Regions from separate parts of the Homo sapiens genome. Here regions 1 and 3 are each reported to be linked to region 2. Evidence: microRNA targets listed by miRTarBase, many of them from high-throughput screens and not tested one by one. Region 2 holds a microRNA gene; each other region holds the end of a gene's coding sequence.

Evidence for each region. Region 2 holds the annotated microRNA hsa-miR-511-5p (GUGUCUUUUGCUCUGCAGUCA, at 3,495-3,515, opposite strand). A microRNA usually pairs through its seed, bases 2 to 8, with sites in the 3' UTR of a target mRNA and lowers its output. Matches are read on the target gene's strand: a 7mer-m8 pairs with bases 2 to 8, a 7mer-A1 pairs with bases 2 to 7 and ends in A, and an 8mer does both.
Region 1: miRTarBase lists SMURF2 as a target of hsa-miR-511-5p. Seed matches in the 3' UTR shown: 7mer-A1 at 4,553-4,559.
Region 3: miRTarBase lists CA8 as a target of hsa-miR-511-5p. The part of its 3' UTR that is shown has no 7-base or 8-base seed match.

What each region holds. Positions count from the first base shown.
Region 1 is chr17:64,540,911-64,546,099 of GRCh38, forward strand. SMURF2 (SMAD specific E3 ubiquitin protein ligase 2) reads right to left here. Exons shown (of 19, transcript NM_022739.4): 19 at 1,372-5,037. The coding sequence ends at 4,938. Among named protein-coding and RNA genes, the nearest start is that of CEP95, 37 kb to the left of the region's middle.
Region 2 is chr10:17,843,165-17,848,636 of GRCh38, reverse strand. It overlaps MIR511 (microRNA 511), which reads right to left and starts at 3,530; the gene lies at 3,444-3,530. MRC1 (mannose receptor C-type 1) reads right to left here. Exons shown (of 30, transcript NM_002438.4): 6 at 3,202-3,348.
Region 3 is chr8:60,204,403-60,209,591 of GRCh38, reverse strand. It overlaps CA8 (carbonic anhydrase 8), which reads left to right. Exons shown (of 9, transcript NM_004056.6): 8 at 673-842. The coding sequence ends at 807. Among named protein-coding and RNA genes, the nearest start is that of CA8, 74 kb to the left of the region's middle.

The DNA of each region.
Region 1 (5,189 bases), not on the chromosome of region 2:
TTTGTAGACTATTATAATACTAAAAAACAAAAAATTGTTTTTGAGACAAGGAAGGTCTCAGTCTGTTGCCCAGGTTGGAGTACAGTGGCTCAATCATGGCTCACTGCAGCCTCGGCCTCCCAGGGCTCAAACAATCCCCCCATCTCAGCCCCACCTCCAGTAGCTGGGACTATCAGCCACGTGCCACTGCGCCCAGCTAGTTTTCATATTGTTTGTAGAGATGGGGTTTCGCCATGTTGCCTAGGCTGGTCTCAAGCTAGGCTCAAGAGATTCACCTGCTTTGGCTTCCCAAAGTGCTGGGATTACAAGCGCAAGCCACAGCACCTGGCCTAATTTTTTTTTTTTCTTTTCCTGAGACAGAGTCTTGCTCTGTTGTCCAGGTCGGAATGCAGTGGCGTGATTTTGGCTCACTGCAACCTCTGCCTCCTGGGTTCAACTGATTCTCCTGCCTCAGCCTCCCAAGTAGCTGGGATTACAGGCGTCCACTACCACACCTGGCTAATTTTTGTATTTTTAGTAAAGAGACGGGGTTTCACCATGTTGGCCAGGCTAGTCTTGAACTCCTGACCTCGTGATCCGCCCATCTCAGCCTCCCAGAGTGCTGGGATTACAGGCGCGAGCCACTGCACCCGGCCAAAAATCTTTAATGTACTAAAACTTTATAAATTTTAGATAAAACCAGTAAACACAGCAATGAGGGACAAAGCAAAACAAAAATATTCAAAAGAATATTAAAGCATATAAACAAAAGCATGCTCACCCTTTGAACTTTAATACACTGCTACTACTTACACATTTCCCAGGTGTTCCCTTCTGTTGTACCCTATGCTGTGTAGACTTACACAGACCATATTCATTCCTTTTCTATCCATAGAGTTAGCTGGACTTTAGTCCACTATCATTAATACAGTAGTGAATTATAAACCTTAAAATCCACAGCTTCTAGAAAAAATACAATTGATTTCTCCTTTTCATTTTGAGAATTTTACTGCTCGACATACCAAGGTAGGGCTGGCAAATATGAGCCCCTGTCATAGGCCTGCCCTACAGAGCGGAGATGTATTATAGCAAAGATGGTTGCAGACTGGTGACAGGACCAAGATGCTCTTCCCCACTAGCCCCTGACCCCCCTCAGAAATCCACCTATGCGGTACCCCCAACAGGTACTACCAACTGAGCAGTCACCACGGCCGGAGAAAACGGGCACCTTCCCTGCTCTGCGAGGAGACAGAAAGCTGAGCTCTGCAACATGACAGAGGCATCAACTCAGGATGGCATGTGTTCTTGAACTTTTCATTTTGTGACTCATGTTGTCACCCTCCATAGAGCCAACCATAAATGTTTTCAAAACGATTCATTACAAACTCAATATTCTTTAAAAACGTTGATGCTGTGACAGTGCAAACAGCATTGATTTTATTGCTCGACTTCGGCATGGGCACATACATAGTTAATTTTTAAAAACCATTTATACAGATGTTACTGATAAAGCTCATGTAACAAATGAATGAAAATACAAAGAATATCAAAGCTAAAACACTCTGTAATAAATACAAATACAATGAAAATGATAAAACTTTGTTTTTAAAGTCAGTCTGAGAGAAGAATATTACATAAAGTGAACTAATTACATCTAGAAATAAAACAACTCAGCATTTGGAACAATCATCCTAACATGTTAAATACCACAAATGGCACCCGTTGACTGTACGCTTAGAAAACAAGCAGAAGGAGCCACTCTCCCAAACTAAGGATGGTTGGAACAGCCTCTAACTCCCAACAATCCAATCAGTCCAATGCACTGGAAATTCAAAGCCCAGATTTAGTGTTGTAAAGTAAAGCGAATTACATTGTATTTGAAAGAAGAGAATCTTGTGCTCCGGACTGTAAATACATGAAAGAAAAAAAGGCTTGGTAAAAAACCCATTCGGGGCAACAAACTATGTGCAAAACAAAATGTACACTATACACTATACACTATGCACTATTTAAAAACTACACCAAGATACAAGGCCCTCTGAGGCAAGACTTACCTCTCTGTACTGCCTATGAGCTCTACAAAGGAATCTCTGTTCATAACTAAGCATTCATGATGGAAAGGCAAGAGTATGAAAACAGATATCACATATCTGAAATAACAATACAGCTAGAGGGAAGACAAGAAAAAACCAGTTAAGAGGGACATGGAAATAAATATTCACATTAAACATGAGGTGCAAGTCCATGGTTCAATAATACATTGGGGGTTTTTGCTTAGCACCTATTTGGAAGTAATCGGGTAATGTAACTTTGAAATGGAAATCTAAATCATGTTTTTATATATGTTGGTGATAACATAGACTGTTATGGAGAGTAATTTCTTTTTTTTTTTTTTTTGGGCGGGGACGGAGTCTCACTCTTGTCGCCCAGGCTGGAGTGCAGTGGTGCGATCTCGGCTCACTGCAATCTCTGCCTCCCAGATTCAAGCAATTCTCCTGCCTCAGCCTCCCAAGTAGTTGGATTACAGGAGTGCGCCACCATGCCCGGCTAAATTTTGTATTTTTAGTAGAGACAGGGTTTCACCACGTTGGCCAGGCTGGTCTCGAACTCCTGACCTCAGGTGATCCGCCCACCTCGGCCTCCCAAAGTGCTGGGATTACAGGTGTGAGCCACCATGCCCAGCCAATTTCTTTCTTTTAAAGCTCTATTAAGTCATTAGTATAAAGTTAAAAAGGCACTCAAAAAGCAATGGTATTTGCCTGCTTTATATTGTATATTAAAATAAGTGATAGTAGCATTTCATTATTACTGTATCCCTGTCAGTTATGATTTCTGTATTCATTATGTACTTTTTTACTGAAAGATTTTAAAAGTAGGCACAATTATAAACTGCACTAGTGCTTTAATATAAAAGAGAGATGGGTCTGCAACCAGTAAAGTACTATCATGACAGCTGAACATTACTGATTATCAAATAGCATAGAAACCACTTCCATACATTTCAAGATGCTCTTCAGTACTCAGAATGCAATGTAAAAAAAACAAATTGTTTGAGAGGAAAAAGGTAGGCATAAGCATATTACCACTGCACAGTTACAACTATGACTAGCTTGCTTGTGGCAGTTGAATTTGGCCAAATGAAATACATTAAAATACTTAAAAACTACACAAGTAGTTCTCAACTTTTTTAAAGCAGCAAAATCTCCACTTTTTTTATCCCATCCATTCCTCCCCGCCCCACTGCACCCCATGAAAGCTTACTTGAAATTCCAATATACATAAGAAAAATGGGCTGTTCTGGGTAAAGGGGGTGGGGATATGGAGCCTAAGGCCCCTGCTCAAATACCAACTAGGCCTTCCCCCTCGCTCCCTCTCATTGCCCCTCTTCTCTTAAACCATTACTCCTGAGGCACCCCTGAGGAACCCTTTGGCTCCAAGAACACAGACTGAAACCCACTCCATCACATGAAACAGAACACAGAGGACCTATTTACTTGATAACTTTAAATTTTGCAGCTTAATTATCATGAAAATTTGCTTATTTCACATCAATGTAAAAAAAAACTGATAGTACATATTTTTGATGGTTGAATTTAAAAATCCAACTGTGATTTCAGATTTTTTCAATCCCTCACCCCAGAGTTTTCGTTGCTTCTGGATCATTCAACATGCACGCACCTTGAAAGCTAAATCTGGACGTTTCAAAATCAGATGCAGATCTTCAACACCAAGGGAAGCGGGATTCCCTTACTTCCAAAATGAACTCTTCAAAGTAATTTACGCCATAGAGTTAGAATCACTGTTCATACTACCGCCCCTCAACCCCACTTCATTCTGTTAGGTAAAAGCAGGATTTTCTAAGCTTATTAATAATCTTTAGAGCAAAATTCTTCCTTTTTCATAACTGTAGCTGATTAAAATTATGAGCAGTTAACGCTTTAGGATGGTTTTGTTAATGGAAACTTACACTGTAGTTAAAATACAATATAAATTAGGTGCACTTGTCAGAGACTTTGGTTTATAGGAATAGTCCATATATTAAAGATAAGCTGACCCAGCAAAATAACGAAAATCCCATCCCATCCACATGCTCTGAGAAGCTATAAAAATGCAGTATTTTAAGATTAAAAGTAAATCCAAAATACCTAATCATATTGACTCAAGATAAAAACATTAGGTTTTTTTTTTTTTAAAAGAGTCTCTTAAAAACAGGGAGCCCCTGAACACATCTTATTGTCACAAATAAATGACTAAGTTTAGACTAAATGGTTGCATTAGGAATTTGACAACCAAAATTATATCGCTGTATTCCAGGAAATCCGTTCTTGAAAAATGTAAAAAAGACCCACTTAGACTAGGTTGAAACATATAATGCAAAATATAATGCTCTGCTATAGAAAAACACAAACATGTAAATGGCTTAATTTCTTAAAGATGATTCTTTTAGCCAATTGTTTACAAAGGTAGAATAATTCAAAATAATTTTATTTTTTTTTACAAAGAGCAAGTACAGGAGCTGTTCAAGATCATGTATTCAATCAAAATGAAATGTGACTTGTACCGACTGCTGAAGTTGTCTTGATGTTTGAGAGACTTGAAATCTGTGAAGAAATTTGAATAGATTACCTTTTATAAAAATAGTAGTAGTCTTTAAGTGTAGAATACTGCCTAACTCTGGAAATGTAGGAAAAGTCAGCATTCTTTAGGTTCAAGATATTAAGTTTAAATAGCAGCTGAATGTGGCCTCATGGCAAAGCATAAAGACCTTTTTTTTCCTTGAAAAGGAATTTCAAAATTGTCCTTTCCCCTCACAGTGTCCTAAAATGTAAAAAAAAAAAAAAAAAGGGGGGGGGGGGGAGTGTTTTCCTGTATTTCAGCATATTCTTTGAAACTCTGCTGAAAGGAGGCTGTCAGTCAGGGTTGTATAAATAGAGTCCTGGGTAAATCCTTGAAGCTTGTCATTCCACAGCAAATCCACATGTTTCTTCAATGGCTGTTAGCAGCTTTTCATATAGCTTTTCATAGCTTTCATAGGGTGGAATGTCTATTCGATTGAAGCTGTGAATAAGCAAATCAAATTTTATACAGTTCATTCAAAATAAGTAAACTGGCCTAGCAAGTGTATACCAGTATAGCCACATCACTCTGTGTCACACAGAAAACTAAAAGGTATTTCTCTAAAACAGAGATGACCACTTTTGGGTTTTCCT
Region 2 (5,472 bases):
CACCCCATGTTCTTCTGAACTAGAAAAGAATAGAGAGAGTGTGCTTGTAAATCACAAGCACCACACAATCATTATTTAATTAAACCAGCTGTCAACATCCTCAGCCTCGCTACTAATAGGATCAAATTGTATAATCTTGATTATACGCTGCAAAAATTTAATAGTAATGAGCTAGGGGAAAGTGACAATAAAGACATTTGAAGGCAGATGTTTATTCATCCCTATTGCCTTGAGCCTGGCACAGGGCCTGGTACATATAAGCGTATTGAGTATTGGAAGAGAAAAAGAATTGAAGTTATAGTTGATATATGGCTGCTTGTTATTACTATTCTAGAGATACTATTTCAAACAGTAATTTGGCAACATGTTTTGCTTAGAAGGGGACTATATTGCCAAATGAAAGTGAACGTATATATTATTTAAGCTCATATTAAATGTTTTCAAATGGCTGTCTTAGTATATGTTCGTTATAGGGTACCTTTCTTCACTATTCCTTTGATGAATTGGTCGTATCTTCCCTTAAAGGTGGAGAGTATCTGAAACATCATTGTTTAAGCCCAGGATTTTGTGCCCTGCAGTCATACAAGTAACTACTCAGTCATGAGGCTCAAATGCTGTACAATTGTAATAAAAAATGCATATTTAAAAAAATTCTATTCCCTCAATACAATTTAGATTCTGTGCACTTCCAGTGGTTACAAAAAAAAAAAGAAGAAAAAGAAAAAGAAAGCAAGCTTAGTACAGCTTTGGAGCCCTCTGGTGGGTTATTTTAATTTTGCTACCTAGGAAATTGAAAATAGTATCAGCCAATGCTGTCCTTCAAAAACTGAAATGATGAACTTTAAACATATTTGAAAGCATGAAAACAACCAACTTGAGTGAAATGAAGGGGAGTTCCCTGGGGCAGCCACAGAAGATGATTTGTTCCTCTAGCCACAGCTCATGTGCTCAGTGGCCACATGCGGTTAAGTGGCTGCTAAGCCAGAGAGTACAGCCCTAGAGACCTGAGGATTATGGACAAACGGGTTAGTGTTACAATAATTCACAGGGTTTGAGGTTGAATTCTTGCCTAAGGCTGTTGCTAATCCCGTATGCTGCATAATTTGAACTCTGATACGCTTTTCCAAGCTCTGGTTTATTTGAGTTTATAGATAAAACAGAATCATTAATCCAGGGAGTATAGAGATGTTCAGAAACTGACATCAAGTGGTTAGCGAGTGAAGAAGGCATCATGGAGGAATAAGAATGTACTGAGTGTTTGATGAAATGAACAAAATTTTATCTCAGGAAGAAGAGTCATGAACATTTCCATTTTACACATGAGGATCCCAGCACCGGCAGGTTAAGCAGTAAGGCCAAGTTACAGAATTCTGAGTGCTGTACCAGAGAAACTATAAAGTAACTATTCTCCTCTTTGGCAACATGGAAATTCCAAGTCTTAGAAAGAGAATTGTAATGAAGGCTTCCAAAAAAGGAAAAAATACACTATTTCTCCTAGAGGAGGAATAGTAGAGGTAAAATGCAAAAATGGTGAGCTTTCTCTAAAGATACCCACCGTCACTATGGAGAGCCTGTAAAGGATAATCAAACCCAACATCCAGGTCCCGCATCTATATCTATTTAGGATCTTGGCCAAATCTATATCAATTAAAATTGCAAACACATCTCCTCCCTAATCCAACAATTCCACTTCCAGGAATGATCACATGCATGAAATGATGTGCATAGAATGTATATAGTTATTTACCTCAGGACTGTTTGTATTAATAAAAGATTGGAAGTAAATTAAATTAAAAATCCATTACACAGGAGATCGGTCAAAAAAATATATGTGCTGTCTCTGCAATAGCTTTTGGACAGCCATAAAATTAAACATAGAAGCTGTTTATATTCTACGTGGAATGATGTCCAAAATTGTTGTTAAGTGGAAAACTTAGGATAAAAACATATTATAGTATACTGCCATTTGTATGAAACAAAAATAATTATAAATATATTTGTTTATATAGTCACAGAATAACTAAGGATACACACCCAGAAACAATTATTCTCCAGGAAGGTAAACTGGGTGTTACAGGTGAGAGGTAGGGAAAACCTTATTATTTATCATGTTGTATCTTTTGAATCTCTAGCTATGTCAAGCGTATTTTAAAATACATGAAATTGCTTTCAAAGCCAATGGGAAGAAAAAAACAAGAATGCCACATTGTCAGTTTCCTCCAGCAGAAAAACAGAAATAAATTAAACCATTTAAAGCATTCGCTGTCCCTCCAAAAAGAGGTAATAATAAAAAATATGTAGTTTGTCTTTCATCAATTGGAAGAAAGAATTCTTGCCTTAGTAGTTTATTCTCCTATAAAATTGTAAGGGACAACACAATTGATTTTTTTTTTTCTTGAAGTCTAGCCGATATTTAAAATTCAGTTACAGGCCAGGCACGGTGGCTCATGCCTGTAATCCCAGCACTTTGGGAGGCTGAGGTGGGTAGATCACCCAAGGTCAGGAGTTCAAGACAAGCCTGGCCAACACAGCGAAACACCATCTCTGCTAAAAATACAAAAATTAGCTGGGCGTGATGGCACACATCTGTAATCCCAACTACTCGGGAGGCTGAGGCAGGAGAATCACGAACCCAGGAGGCGAAGTTTGCAGTGAGCTGAGATCGCGCCATTGTACTCCAGCCTGGGTGACAGAATGAGACTCTGTCTCAATAAATAAATAAAATTCAGTTACAACTTTTTAGATATTTTATTCTATTTTATGAAAACTTTAGTATAAGACGCTACACTGAATAGCAAGGAAGCCCAGATAGAGCCGTGAGGACCTAATATAAACATCCCTTCCAAATGTTGACTTTCTAGCTTGGATTCCGGTTTTGCCATGTCTGCAAGGTTTCTGTATCCTCTGAATATCTTTTTCCTCAACTATAGCATGTGAATCATGACACCTACCTCAGAGGACTGATTGGGAAGGTAACATTTTTATTTAGGTCAGAGGATCTCCACAATGCCCAGACACCGCCGCACACTCAGGAAATACTAGCAACCAGCACACAGAAATATTGCAGTAATATCATTAAGTTTACCCCATCAACTATCCACAAAACCTCTGGCGGCATTCCAACAGTTACACCTAAGCTGTAATGTTACTTATCTTTCAATTCTAATAGTTGAGGCACTTCAGATCCCATAGATCACTTACCTGAGGGAATAACAAAAGAATTTAAAGTGGTGTTGCCCTTTTTGCAAATATAGCCCAGTTTCTGAACACATTCCAGATTTTCCCATTTAGCATTTTTTCCAGGATTTAGTGACACACAGCTTTTTCCAGGTTCAGCTGATGGACTTCCTTCGAGGAAAAGGAAAAGTTAAAGTGGACTATTATAGCTATTCCCAGCAGATAGCATCCCTCCCACGTCTCCTCATGTCTTCATCCTGGGGATTCAATGGACCACCATTCTGTCTTTTGCTACACATTCACAAAAAAATATTTACTGACTGCAGAGCAAAAGACACGATGGGTGTCTATTGTTTTCTTATCGTTGGATCATTCCAATACTTAGAATGTTGATAAAGCAAATATACTTCTTTGAAACAACCCTTTCCCCCATTATCAGCTAATAAAGCTACACCTTAAAACTTGAACAGTTGTCACAACGGATTACATTATCAAAGAGAGGTACCTAATGAAAAGAATGCATGATTATGCCGCCATAAAAAAAAATGAAATCATCATGTCCTTTGCAGCAACATGGATGCAACTAGAGGCCATTATCCTAAGCGAATTAATGCAGAACAGAAAGCCAAATAGCCATGTTCTCACTTCTAAGTGGGAGCTAAATACCGAGTACTCATGGACACAAAGATGGCAACAACAGAAACTGGGGACTATGAGATGGGGGAGGAATGGAGGGTAACAAAGTTTGGAAAACTAGCTACTGGGTTCTATGCTCACTGCCTGGTTGATGGGATGGATCATTTATATCCCAAACCTCAGCAACATGCAATTTACCTAGGTATGTAACAACCGTGTACATGTATCTCTGAATCTACAAGTAGAATTTATTAAAAAGAAAGAATACATGATGTTCCAAACCTGCCACACTAAACATTATTAGGGCAGGGCACGGTGGCTCACGCCTGTAATCCCAGCACTTTGGGAGGCTGAGGCGGATGGATCAACTGAGGTCAGGAATTCGAGATCAGCCTGGCCAACATAATGAAACCCCATTTCTACTAAAAATACAAAAAAATCGGCCGGGGAGCTGGCGGGCACCTGTAATCCCAGCTACTTGGGAGGCTGAGGCAGGAGAATTGCTTGAACCTGGGAGGCAGAGGTTGCAGTGAGTGGAGATCACACCACTGCACTCCAGCCGGGGTGACAGAGTGAGACTCTGTCTCAAAAATAAAAATAAAAATAAATGGAGGAGAAAAAGCTAATGGGAGAGCTAGATGGGCAGCATGCTGTGCTCCCAGAACTAAAACTGTCTCAATATCTTCAACTCAGCCTACTGAAGAAGACTTTCAGCAGCTATGCCTTATCCATTTCTTAGTGGAAACTGATTAAAGAACCAGATAAAGTCAACGTTGCTAAAGGGATGAATGTAGGCATTGATACATTTCACATGCGTTTTGCTACTCTAATATATGATTTAAAAACCAGTACTCCCCAAACTAGCTTCACCTTCCACCTGAAGACAGGGTGAATGAGCCACATTCTGTTAATACCTATGCTTTGTGACCTCCAATGTGTATGTAACCTGTGCCTGAATGTCACTTCCTTTCCTGCAAGACGGAAATCATATTACCTGCTCCACAAAGTCTGGAGCAGGTAATAACCTAAATAACCTTTTTAAAGTTTTGGTGGTATTCTTTGTGTGGTAATTAAATGATTTTTTTAAAGTTTATTTAACTACCACACAAAGAAAATAATGGTTAGTAATAAGCATTAAGTTATCTTTTTTTTTTCTTTTTGAGATGGAGTTTTGCTCTGTCACTCAGGCTAGAGTCCAGTGGCGTGATCTCAGCTCACTGCAACCTCCACCTCCTGGGTTCAAGCAATTCTCTGCCTCAGCCTCCTGAGTAGCTGGGACTACAAGTGCCCACACCATGCCCAGCTAATTTTTGTATTTTTAGTATAGACGGGGTTTCACCATCTTGACCAGGCTGGTCTTGAACTCCTGACCTCGGGATCCACCCGCCTCAGCCTCCCAAAGTGCTGGTATTACAGGCGTGAGCCACTGCACCTGGCCAAAGTTATCTTAAAGTTAGTAATAAGCATAAAGTTATCATAAAGTTAGTAATAAGCATAAAGGTATCTTAAACATTTGCTGATACTGTAACTAAAATAACAGGATAACTGAACTAACAGATAAGGTATCAGCACTAAAAAGAAACTTTCAAACAAATACATTTCTAGCTCTAAGTTATTAATTGATGTGCTAATTAGTAAATCATATTACACATTTATTTA
Region 3 (5,189 bases), not on the chromosome of region 2:
ATGTACTTGGAAAGCATTTAAGAGCACATTCATTTGTTCACTTTTTCTTATTATGCTATAGATAGGCATAAAACCTTTTTGGGAGAGGTTTGTATCATTGTTTTTTGGAGATGGAGTCTGGCTCTGTCACTCAGGCTGGAGTGCAACGGTGTGATCTCGGCTCACTGCAACCTCCGCCTCATGGGTTCAAGTGATTTCTCCTGCCTCAGCCTCCTGAGTAGCTGGGATTACAGGTGTGCACCACCAAGCCTGGCTGATTTTTGTATTTTTAGTAGAGACAGGGTTTCACCGTGTTGATCAGGCTGCTGTTGAACTCTTGACCTTGTGACCTGCCCACCTTGGCCACCCAAAGTGATGGGATTACAGGCGTGAGCCACTGTGCCCGGCCTGTATCATTTTTACATTAACAAATGGAGCAGATTTCTTTATCTATTTGAGTTGTTCAGAGATCTTGATATGTCTACTTCTGTTGTCATTTCTTGAAAGGGTCCTCTCTAACGTCTTAGGTCTGGAAGAATTAAGTCTGTTTTTTTTCTTTTTGAAGCTTAATTTTAATTTTCTCTTCAATAATTCTTGTAATTTATACATATTTTATGCATGTCATTTATGAAACTCCAATCTTGTTAATGTCCGATAATTGATTAATCTATTTTCTTCTGCTTTTATTTTCAGATAGAAGAATTTCGAAGGCTGAGGACACATGTTAAGGGGGCAGAACTTGTGGAAGGCTGTGATGGGATTTTGGGAGACAACTTTCGGCCCACTCAGCCTCTTAGTGACAGAGTCATTAGAGCTGCATTTCAGTAGCCAAAGAGGACAGGAACAAGTCTGTCTTCATGAGGGTATGTCCAGATTAAGTAAGGAAAATGAGGTGCACAGCTACTTAAACCTAGCGTACCAAAGGTACACTTATTGTGATCCTGGTAATTTAGTAATAAAAGCGTATGTACTTCATCTTGATAAAATTTATGACACATTCTTGAGCTCTGTTAATTACAGGTCAAGTAGGTATTTTAATTTTATGCAGTATTGAAGAAAAACTATGATTATATTTTCCTATCAGAGTAGCCTTTAATTCCAAGTTTTGGTGGCTTTCATAAGAACAGACACCCTCAGGCCCAGAAAAAGTGACATGCATGCATACCTCTTTAGTAACTTACCATGTTGTCCCCGTGAAGCAGCACCAGTCATGTCCCAGTGACCAAGGAGCACATAGGAGGGGACTTGGGGAGCGTGTGAGCCTCAGTGTGGACCCTTCTCGTCTCCTGCAGAATTGATCCTCTTGTTTCTCAGGGGAGGGAGCATATCTGGCATGCATTGAAATACTTCTTCTATGGAAGTGCCTTTTATATGATAAATTGAGAAGCACTTATTAATTATCTGAATATGATACACTATTGATTGAAACATAATCTATGTATTTTAATATATAGAATTCAATGTATGTATTCCTTACTCTTAAGGAACTAACAAAATAAAATATCACAAACACGGAAGAGATAAAATATAAAACAAACTATATATTGGATTATTTATTTACCTTGTAAATTTCCTAAGTGCATAGGTCATTGTACATCACTGGCAAACCACAGCTTCCCAAGGGGAAGGCATCTGTTGGAATAGAACCTAGGGAAGCAGCGAAATCTCATCTCTATAAACAATTTAAAAATTAGCTGGGTGTGGTGGCATACGCTTGTAGTCCCAACTATTCAGGAGGCTGAGGTGGGAGGATCACTTGAGCCTGGGAGGTGGAGGCCGCAGTCAGCTGAGATCACACCACTGTTCTCCAGCCTGGGTGACAGATTGAGATCGTGTCTCAAACAAAATGAAACAAAACAAAAAAACGAAGAAGTCTGCCAGGTAGCCAGGGTGATAGATGCGGAGGCTTGGACACTAGAATAGGAACAGTGGAGGTGGAGAGAAGTTGATGTATATGAAATAGAAATCGCAGGTTATAGCTAGTGATGAATTGGATGAGGGGTGGAGGGAGATGGAAGTGTCAAAGATAAATTCCGGGGTCTTACACTTTGGAAACCCTGGATGGAGTGCCACTGAGTGGCAGTGGGAAAGCTGCGGGGAGGCCCTGTTTGGTTGAAGATAAAGAGTTGAGTTGCAGCACAGTGAGTGAGAGATGCCTGTCAACCACAAACTGCAATAGCGGACTCTGGTCATGAAGGTCATTAGCATTTCAAGAGTAGAGAACAGAAAACAAGTCTGGGTTGAAATAGGGACGTATTGGGTGTAGACATTGTATATGTTCATATAATGTTCTGATGGATCTAATGGGGTTACTTAATTAAGTGTGCATAAAATCTTGTGGGAGGCTTTACAGACAAGTTAGCCAAGACACAGATAAGTTAGGTTACGGGCCAAAGTAATACAGTGATTGAGCAGTGGAGCTGAAGGAGATCCAGGCAGCTTGACTGGCAGAGCCCTTTTTCTTCACCACGACATGGGCAGAGGTTAGAGAGTTTTGCCACACTGGCGGTCGAGTGACACATCAAGGAGGGATGTGGTTGCAGCAGGCTAAAGGCCATAGGAAGGGAGGAGCTGGAGACTCCAGGTCGCAGCCACCTTGGTGGGCTGGGGTGGGGCAGGAGGCCGCAGCAACAGAGACGGGGTGGGATTGAAGAAGTCTTTTTTTTTTTCTTTTTTAAACAAAAGAAATAGAACTTGTCTATATGCTGGGGTGTGGGAAAGGAGCAAGTAGATGGAGAGAGGCTGAAGATACTGCTTCTGGGAGGAGCTGGAGCAGTGAAGTCTGAAAAGTTGAAAGGGATGAAATCCTAAGCACACAGGGAGACTGGCTTTTGCTGAGAGGATGGGCACTCTCTGTGCTGCAATGGGAAGGAAGAAAGAAGGAGGTGGTGGTTTAGAGCTGCTGTGTACCCATGACTTGCTCTTACCATTTAATGATGAAGGGGCAGGAGCTAGGAGTGGGAGAGCAGCAGTGAAGATGGATAGGAGCAGAGGAAGAGGGAAGGATGTGTTCACAGGAGAGGCCAAGAGGCAGCGGGGGTGGGATGAGGGTTGCAAAGCGTGAATTTATGCATTTCTCCAGTCTAGGTTTAGTTAGTATACTCCCTGTGAATGTCAATACCTGTAAATGATACTTTTAATGAAGGGAGATTATTCCCTTGAATGTTTGGTTTGTATCTTGTCCTAGACCAGAGTTGCCATTCTCTAAATATCTAAATGACTATTATTATTTTCTCTCTCTCTTTTACACACACACGCGCACACACACACACAGAGAAATGTTGTTTATGAGATTTTGTATATTTCACATACTTCATATTCTTTATATGATAGATGAATAATGTGTAGTTTTTCAAAGTTTTGAGTTAATTACAATTTAGGTACTATTTCTAAAAGGAAGATATATTTGTGTTCTTACTTTGGTGGCTGAGATTACTTAAAGGGGATAATTTGCTCCCAAATTCCTAAGAATGGTACAGGAATTCTAAGGTGACTAATTCTTATTTCATTTTTTTATGAATACTTTTATCTTGAAATGTGTAATACAAATCTGGTCAGAGTTCTATATAAAAATTATATTGGGAATCAGACTTATGTGTGTGTACTTTTTATTTGATATTTAATAATGCCCTAAGGCAGGTAATTCAAATTTTTATTAAAGTGAAATGATTTGACAGTCAGACTTTGAATTTAATGCATGAATGTTTCATTTAAGCTCTTGGAACTAAAAAGGAAAAGACATTTCTCTGGTAGTTGTTCTCTAAAAAATGTTTAAAATAATTCAGATATATTTTAGCTATGTTTTACTGAAATAACTTTAGTTTTAGACTTAAAATGACAGATTTTTAAAAAAATGACATGTCTGGGCACCTGGAAGACTTTGATAACCAAGCTTTATTATTCCCATGAGTAATCTGTGACTTTTTATATTACCATTTAAGAAGTATGAACTATGATTTTGTATTATACTTGTTTAAAGAATTAGTATGTAAGTCATCCAGGTGCTGGAAATTCTTTGGTTCAGCGGTGCTAATTCAGATTTATGGGTGCCTATTGATATTAAATGATCCTTTACCCATTGAATTTTCTATATGATGCAGGAGAACTAAATGTATTTTAATAACAATGAACAAATGATATAACAAGTTTAAGGTCCAGTTTACTTGTTACTTTTGGTATCATGACATTGGTACTCATCTTCCAGCAAAATGATTATTTGATTATTTGCCTTTTTACTTCATAAAGTGTTAGCCCATTTTTAAAAGGCTGTTCTGACGCTCAAAGACTGTCTCGCTTGTGACCTAAATATTGTTAAGCTGTATACATGTTTACAGTAACTATAATGAATTATAATTATTTTCTGTAAAAAGCAATGTCACACGGCTCTTTAGTTTCTCTTTTTTTCTGCCTTAAATGTGGAAAAATAAGAATGCCCTAAATACGTTAAAAAAGAAACAAAGCCAGAAAAATGGGGTTATTCAGCAAGCATCTCCAAATAGTCCCATTGTCAAACTTGCCCTTATTTTTCTTTTGGGATCTTTGAAGTTATCCTTGACTGTTGAACTCTTCCCTACTTGTACTTTTGCGGTTAATAATATTGTCTTCTTAGCTTTAATAAAGCTATAACAAGTATCAATTTCATATCAGTCTTCTTTGATAACCTAAAAGAGTTACAGGTTAGAAGAGGGTAAGGCATTATAGAGAAGGGGGTGCCTGTGTGAGGAAAGGAAAGTGAGAATGTTCACTCTGAATGACCAAGTAGGTGAAAGCTATTATCCTTCCAGATTAAATGGAAAGCTCAAAGCCATATTTTCAGTCAGTAGAACTTGGACTCTCCTCTGATAATTTAACATGGTGCACAGCATTAGGGTTAGAACTGAAGGCTCTACAGATGTAGCTGTTTTCTATTTATTATATCTCATAGAATTTCCTCCAACTGGAATGGATTTCCTACCAGATCTCAAAATGATTTCAGTAAAATGCCAAAACACCAAGGATGCTCAGAATACCTATTATGTTTTGATTATGTGATATAAAAATTATTAACCCACCAATGAAAAATACAAGAGCTGTATGAGCTCTCTTCAAGATTACTAAACAAAGAAAATAATTCGTGCTTTAAAATATATCTCTTCCTTTTTATGTTTTAGAAATGTTAATAATTTATCATGGATAAAAATTTCAGAATGATTTTTTCCTCCCACTATGAA